Linked DNA regions of Homo sapiens. The protein of the gene in region 1 interacts with the protein of each later gene in a pairwise test. Each region holds a gene or a part of one and is shown on either strand. Other genes may lie near its edges. The genes, in order: SPMIP4 and KLHL40.

Evidence for each region.
Region 2: the proteins of SPMIP4 (region 1) and KLHL40 interact in a two-hybrid assay, tested with the Homo sapiens proteins (2 studies listed by BioGRID and IntAct).

What each region holds. Positions count from the first base shown.
Region 1 is NC_000007.14:25,135,117-25,138,944, forward strand, and holds part of SPMIP4 (sperm-associated microtubule inner protein 4), read right to left. Parts: intron 1,678-3,828; coding exon 856-1,677; 3' UTR 1-855. UniProt on the Homo sapiens protein: Microtubule inner protein (MIP) part of the dynein-decorated doublet microtubules (DMTs) in flagellum axoneme. May serve to reinforce and thus stabilize the microtubule structure in the sperm flagella.
Region 2 is NC_000003.12:42,688,537-42,691,118, forward strand, and holds part of KLHL40 (kelch-like protein 40), read left to right. Parts: intron 1-73; coding exon 74-181; intron 182-332; coding exon 333-518; intron 519-2,322; coding exon 2,323-2,469; intron 2,470-2,582. UniProt on the Homo sapiens protein: Substrate-specific adapter of a BCR (BTB-CUL3-RBX1) E3 ubiquitin ligase complex that acts as a key regulator of skeletal muscle development.

The DNA.
Region 1 (3,828 bases):
AATTGACTTGCATATGGGAGTTAGCCAAACTCTTAGAGAACACACTCCAGAAATGAAGATTTGGGGCTCTGTAATAACTGATACCAAGCCATCCTTTCTTGCTATAATTAGAACTCACCAGTTGCTAATTAAGGCCATTGCTAGATCTTCAGTAAAATAATTTTATCTGCATAAAAGAAACAGTTATGTTTCTCAATCAGAAGGTTAAGGGTAAGCAAACAATTCAATTTGTAATGTGTACATGCAGAGAGTTTTGGGTTTCATTTTTTTCGCTGACTTATTTTCTTTACATGTTTACATAAAGGAACAGAGTCCACATACTTTTAAGACAATATAGTTTTTAGAGGTGTCCATCCCTCAATTAACTAGGTGTTTGGGTTTTGTCTTTTCTACCTAATGCTACTATGTACAAAAATTTACATAAAGGGACAGTGTTCTCATTTTTATTAAGATACTATAATTTGTATAGTCATTCATTAATTATTGATCATTTGAGTTCTTTCCAGCTTTTCAATTTTTTTTGGTGAAACAATGATGTAAACTTTGTTGTACACATTGCTTTTTGTGATTTTGGAAAATTTCCTTGTATAATCTGAAGATGAGAGATTAAAGACTATAAATTTTTCTAGTTCTAATATTTTATTGCCAAATTGTTAAACTTTTCAAGAAGTCATAACATCACCTTTTCTGGGTTCCTCCAACCAGATACTAACTTAAATTCCTGAAAATGTAAACCTCACTAACAAGGTCCTTGTGGTTTAATCTAGAAAACAGAATCCAGCAATACGAAGGAAATTCTGTTATATTTTTTAGCTTCTTGCAAGAGGCTGGGTTTTGAAGGGAAGAATGAGTATCTCAATTATAGAAATAATAGGAATTATGGCCATAGAATTGGTGCTTCATCCCCGAATGCTCATTATCCCTGAGGTCTTTATGGTCTTCTAGAATTGATTTATGGAAACGCTTTTGTGCACCAGTTTTTGAAAAAGAGTTCTTAAGCTCCAGCAGGTTGGTCTGAGGTTTGGTCACTCCAGCTCTAGGAATCCAACCAAGAACAGGTCTTGTTTCTTCATTGTTTTCCATATTCAAGAACAACTCTTCTTCTGGCTTACTTAAAAAATGTTCTAAAGTGAAAGCTTCCGTGTCTTGTTTATTTTGTAAAACACTAGGTTTACTAAGGCTAACAGGGTCTGGACACATATTATACTGATCACGTAGGGGAGATTTAAGATTTTCATAGTGAATCCAGTGGTCTGGTTTACAGTAAGGTGTGGGTTGGGTTTTTAGTGACTGCTGTCTCCAGTATAAATCTTCTGTCTTTTTAGTATCTGTGATTTTTGGAAATGGCTTTATGTCATAAATGCTAGTTAGGTCTTTTGTTGGGTAACAAGATGGGAGTTCATAGGTAGACAGCAAGCTCTGTTCTTCTATGATCTTCTCTTCAATATCCTGGTTTTTATGGGTCACACCGGCTGGTATGTTATCACTAAGTGCCACCATTTCTTTAGAACTGGGTACAAAGGTATGAAAATTACACAAAACTCTAGGAGTACAATCTGGACAGGAACGTGGTCTTTGCTGGACTATAGCCTCCAGAGAACGTCGGTTCTGAATTAATCGGGCAATTCGTCCTTCCAACGGTCTGGGAGGTTTGAAGACAGGGTGGAATTTTTCTTGCTGTAGTTGTGGGATAAAAAGGAGAAAAAAATTGATCAGGGATATTGCCACAAATGGTAGGTCAAAAGTCATACCCATTTTCATTGTCTGAGTACACGAGATGGGCATAGGAGTGTACATTGCAATGCTCTTTGATACTAATTTAAAGACATTGAAATTTGGGTCCAAATACATTTTCCTCCTTTACTGGTTTTAGAGAGTATGAAAGGGGCATGTTTTTTATTTGGCTATACAGAACTCTTTCTGTGTGGGAACTCTGCTTTTAAACTTCAAAGATATAAAGCAATCACTGGAATAAAACTTCTGTCCATCACTAACAGATGGCATTAGCCGCGTGTGCAGTTATTTAATCTCAGCCAAAGTCTCCTTTATTAGGCCTTAGCAAGTGCCCTTAAACCTTGGCTGAGTCAGAATCATCTGCAGAGCTGGCAGGAGATTCCTGACTCCTAAGACCCTCCAAGACTGTGGGTCAGAAGGCCTGTAGTGGGCCCCAGGAAGCTGAATTTTCTTTTTTTTTTTTTTTTTTATTTTTTCTTTTTTCTTTCCTTTCTCTTTGGTTTTCATTCTCTTATGGTTTTGGCAGGTTTTGACAGTATTAGAGTAATGCGAACCTCATGAAACAAGTTGCGGAGTGTATTAATTTGCTAGCGCTGCCATAATGAGGTACCACAAACTGGGTGGCTTCAACAATAGAAATTTATTGTCTCATAGTTCTGGAAGTTCAGCCTCAGTGTATTGGCAGGGTTGGTTTCTTCTGAGGGTTGTGAAGAAAAATCTGATTCCTGCCTCTTCCCAAGATTCTGGGTGGTTTAATGGAAATCTTTAGTGTCCCTTGGCTTGTAGAGGCATGACCCCACTGTCTGCTTTCATGTTCACAAGACATTCTCTCTGCAGCATGTCTACCTCTAAATTTTCTTTTTATAAGAACACCAGTTAGATTGGATTAAATTCACCCTCATGACCTCATTTTAACTTGATTACCTTGGAAATGACCCTATTTCCAAATAAGGTCACATTCTGAGGTACTTGGGATTATGCTACAACTTCAACAAAAGAGATTACCCATAATATGGGGTAATTTAACCTTCCTTACATTCTAAAAATCTTGTGTAAGATTGGTGTTATTTCTCCTTGAAGATTAGAAAAGATTTACCAGTAAAACCACTTGGGTCTAGACTTTCCATTTTAGGAGGGTTTTTGATAAATTCAATTTATTATTATGTATAGGACTATTCAGATTTTCTTTATCTTCTCATGCCAATTTTGGGAGGACCACTTTTTAAGGACACTTGTCAATTTTAAGTTATGATCTTTTTAATGCCTGGAGAATATGTAATGATAATCTTTTAAAAAAATTCATTATAACTGTGATTTATGTGTGTATTCTTTTGTTCTTAATCAATCTAACTAGAAGTTTGTCAATTTTGTTGATCTATTCCAGGGATCAGAAAACTTTTTTCTGTAAAAGGCCAAGTAGTAATAAGCTCATAATTTAGTGTAAGCATTGTGGACCATGTGATCATCATTGTAACAATGCAACTCTGCCATTGTTGAATAAAATCAACCATAAACAATCCATAAACAAATGAATATTGCTGAGTTCTTTTATTTTCTTTTTGTGAAGATAGAGTCTTGTTATGTTGCCCAGGCTGGTCTCTAACTACTAGGCTCAAGCAATCCTCCTGCCTTTGCCTCCCAAAAATGACAGGATTACAGGCCTGAGCCACTGTGCCCAGCAACTGTTGCCATGTTCTAATAAAATTTATTTACAAAACCAAAAATAACCACAATGAGTTAATACTCCACAGTCACCGTATAATCAAAAAGAGAGAAATAAATAACTGTTGGCATTTATGTTGAGTAATAAAAACCCTCATACATTTCTGGTTGGAATGTAAAGAGTTACAGCCACTTTGAAAAATGGTTTTGAAGTTTCCTAAAATCATATAACTACTCTCCCAAAACAAAAACATATGTCCATACACAGATTTGCATGTAAATATATGGAAGCTGAATTTTCAACGAGCATTTCAGGTGATGGTGAGGCTGGAGATTTGCTATGCTTTGAGAAACACTGGTCTGAGGTGTCATGTCTGTGCTTCTTTTTAAGTTGTTTTATAAATATGAACTCAATTATGTCTGGTAACTGCG
Region 2 (2,582 bases), on another chromosome or scaffold:
ATGGGTGCAGAGACAGGGACTGAGCCGAGCCTGGATGGGTGCCCTCCCCCACCCCCACTCCCGTCTCCTCCAGGTCATTCAAATGGGGTGAATCGGACCCGCTGCCTTACGTGGTGTATGGCCACACAGTGCTCTCCCACATGGACCTTGTCTACGTAATTGGCGGCAAAGGCAGTGACAGGTGAGGCTGGGCCTGGAGTGAGTCTGTGGAGCAGAGGTAGAATCTCCCAGAGGCTGTCAGGGGTTTGTCCTGGCTGCCCCGGCAGGTGATTGCAGGGAGGCGTGGCTGGGCTCCTGCTTCTCTCCACCCATCCCCACCCTCCACCCCACAGGAAGTGCCTGAACAAGATGTGCGTCTATGACCCCAAGAAGTTTGAGTGGAAGGAGCTGGCACCCATGCAGACCGCCCGCTCACTCTTTGGGGCCACTGTCCATGATGGCCGCATTATCGTGGCAGCTGGGGTCACCGACACAGGGCTGACCAGTTCTGCCGAAGTGTACAGCATCACAGACAACAAGTATGAAAGCTTGTCCCTTCCGCCAAGGACAACTGCATGGCTTTGGGCTTCTGTCAGCCCCAGCAGGAGCTGCAGTCCCTGTCTTGGGTCTCCAGTGTTGACTTTGGACATCAGTATAGAAATAGGCTTTCTCTCCTGATCAGCAGTGAGGTGGGGAGGCGGGGCAAGGGTTATGGCCAGCCTGGTCTGCAGGAGGGGGCTCCCAGGGCTGGGGGAGGGGATGCCAGGTTCCTCATTCAGGGACTCATACCAGGCAATGGCCTGGTGCAAGGGATATAGCAGTGAACAAGACAGAAGCTGCCCTGCCTGGGACATCAGAAAAGAGAAAACTGAACTGAGAGACAGTTGGACTCAGCTCGCAAAAGGGGTGAGGGTGGTGGGAGGAGGTTGCCCCAGACTAAGGAAAGGTGGTGCTGAGGCAGTTTGGAGAAAAAACTCAAGGCCTATAGGAGGGAAGGTGTTGCTCCAGCTGGGTGGAGGTGGGTGGGTGATGGAGTTGGGATGGCGGTGCTGGGGCTGGAGCGGGGGCCAGCAGGAGAGGGACTGTATCTCATCTGTGTTCTACTAAAGTACTTCATGGCAACTGATATAGAGAGCAGATTAGGGATTTCCCAGGGGTCAGGAAGGTCAGGGGTGATAAAGGCCTGGAGCTGGGGGCACAGCGGAGATGGGGTTGAGGGGATGCACCGGACAAAGACAGGCCAGGGCTTCTTACACTGTGATGGGCATGCAAATCTCCTGGGGATCGCCTTAAAGTGCAGATTCTGATTCTCGGTATGCGGAGGGCTGAAAGCCTGTAAGTCTGCATTTCTAACGCACCCCCAGGAGATGCTGACGCTGCTGGGCCATGAACCACACTTTGAGTAGCAAGAGTCTAGGAGGTGGGAGAAACAGGGCTTAGCTATTGATTGGATGTGGGGGTGAGAGGGGGAGAAGTACATGCTTCTGAGTGAGGGTGGGAGGCCATTTACTGGATAATCATTGGGATTGGGTAGGGAAAGTGAGGGTCCAGTTAGGACATGTGGACTTGAAGTACCTGGGGGTGTCCAAAAGGACCCCACCCGGGAGAGAGAGGGCTGAGCTGGAGGGAGAGATCTGGGGGTCAGTAGCACACGGAGGGGCCAAGCTCCCTCAGGAGAGAGAGTGTAAATGGGAGGAGCTGAGGTCCAAGCCCTGATGGTGGAGGCAGCTGCATTATCCAGGAAGGAGGCCACGAAGGTGAGGCCGAAGAGATGGGTGAGGAAAGTCACGTCAGCAGGGCTGTGTGCTGTAGGACCTCAGTGCGTGTGCAGTGACTGTGGACCTCAGGAAGGTCAGTTTTGGAGGATGGGACTAAGGCCCAAGGCAGGAGCCAGGGTAGCGAAGATACATTGAGAACAACTGGGCTGTGAAGGGAGAAGAAGGATAGAGCAGGTGTGCAAGGTGGGTGGGGCTGCAGGGGCCGCTGAGGGGCAAAAGGACTGCGTCCAGGGCAAGGCTGGGGGCCTGCTAGGGGCTGGGGTTGTGAGTTGGAGGGTGGAGTTAGTTCAGGAGAGGAGTAGGGGCAGTGGGGAGATCCATGGTGGACTTTGCTGGACAGGTTGGATAGAATGGCAAGAGGACAAGGAAAGGAAAGTGGAGGAGCAAGAGAATGGGGAAGGAAGGGAAGACCAGAGGGACAGGGAAGGGGAATGGGGTTGGGGGCATGGGTGCCTGGGACTTGGATTGCAAAGGGTTGCAGTTGGAGCTGTGGGTGCTGGGTGGCAGGGACAGTCACTGGGCTTGCCGAGGCATCCCAATGATGCACCTTCTCACACACCCCCAGGTGGGCACCCTTCGAGGCCTTCCCACAGGAGCGTAGCTCACTCAGCCTGGTCAGCCTGGTGGGTACCCTCTATGCCATTGGTGGCTTTGCCACACTGGAGACGGAGTCTGGAGAGCTGGTTCCCACAGAGCTCAATGACATCTGGAGGTGAGTCCCACCCTGGGGAGGCAAGGGGGCATCATGAGCAAGGCTGACACCCCATAGCACCATGGTGGGGTACCAAGGCACTGGGCAAGCTCCTCTGGGGGCAAAGCGGATCC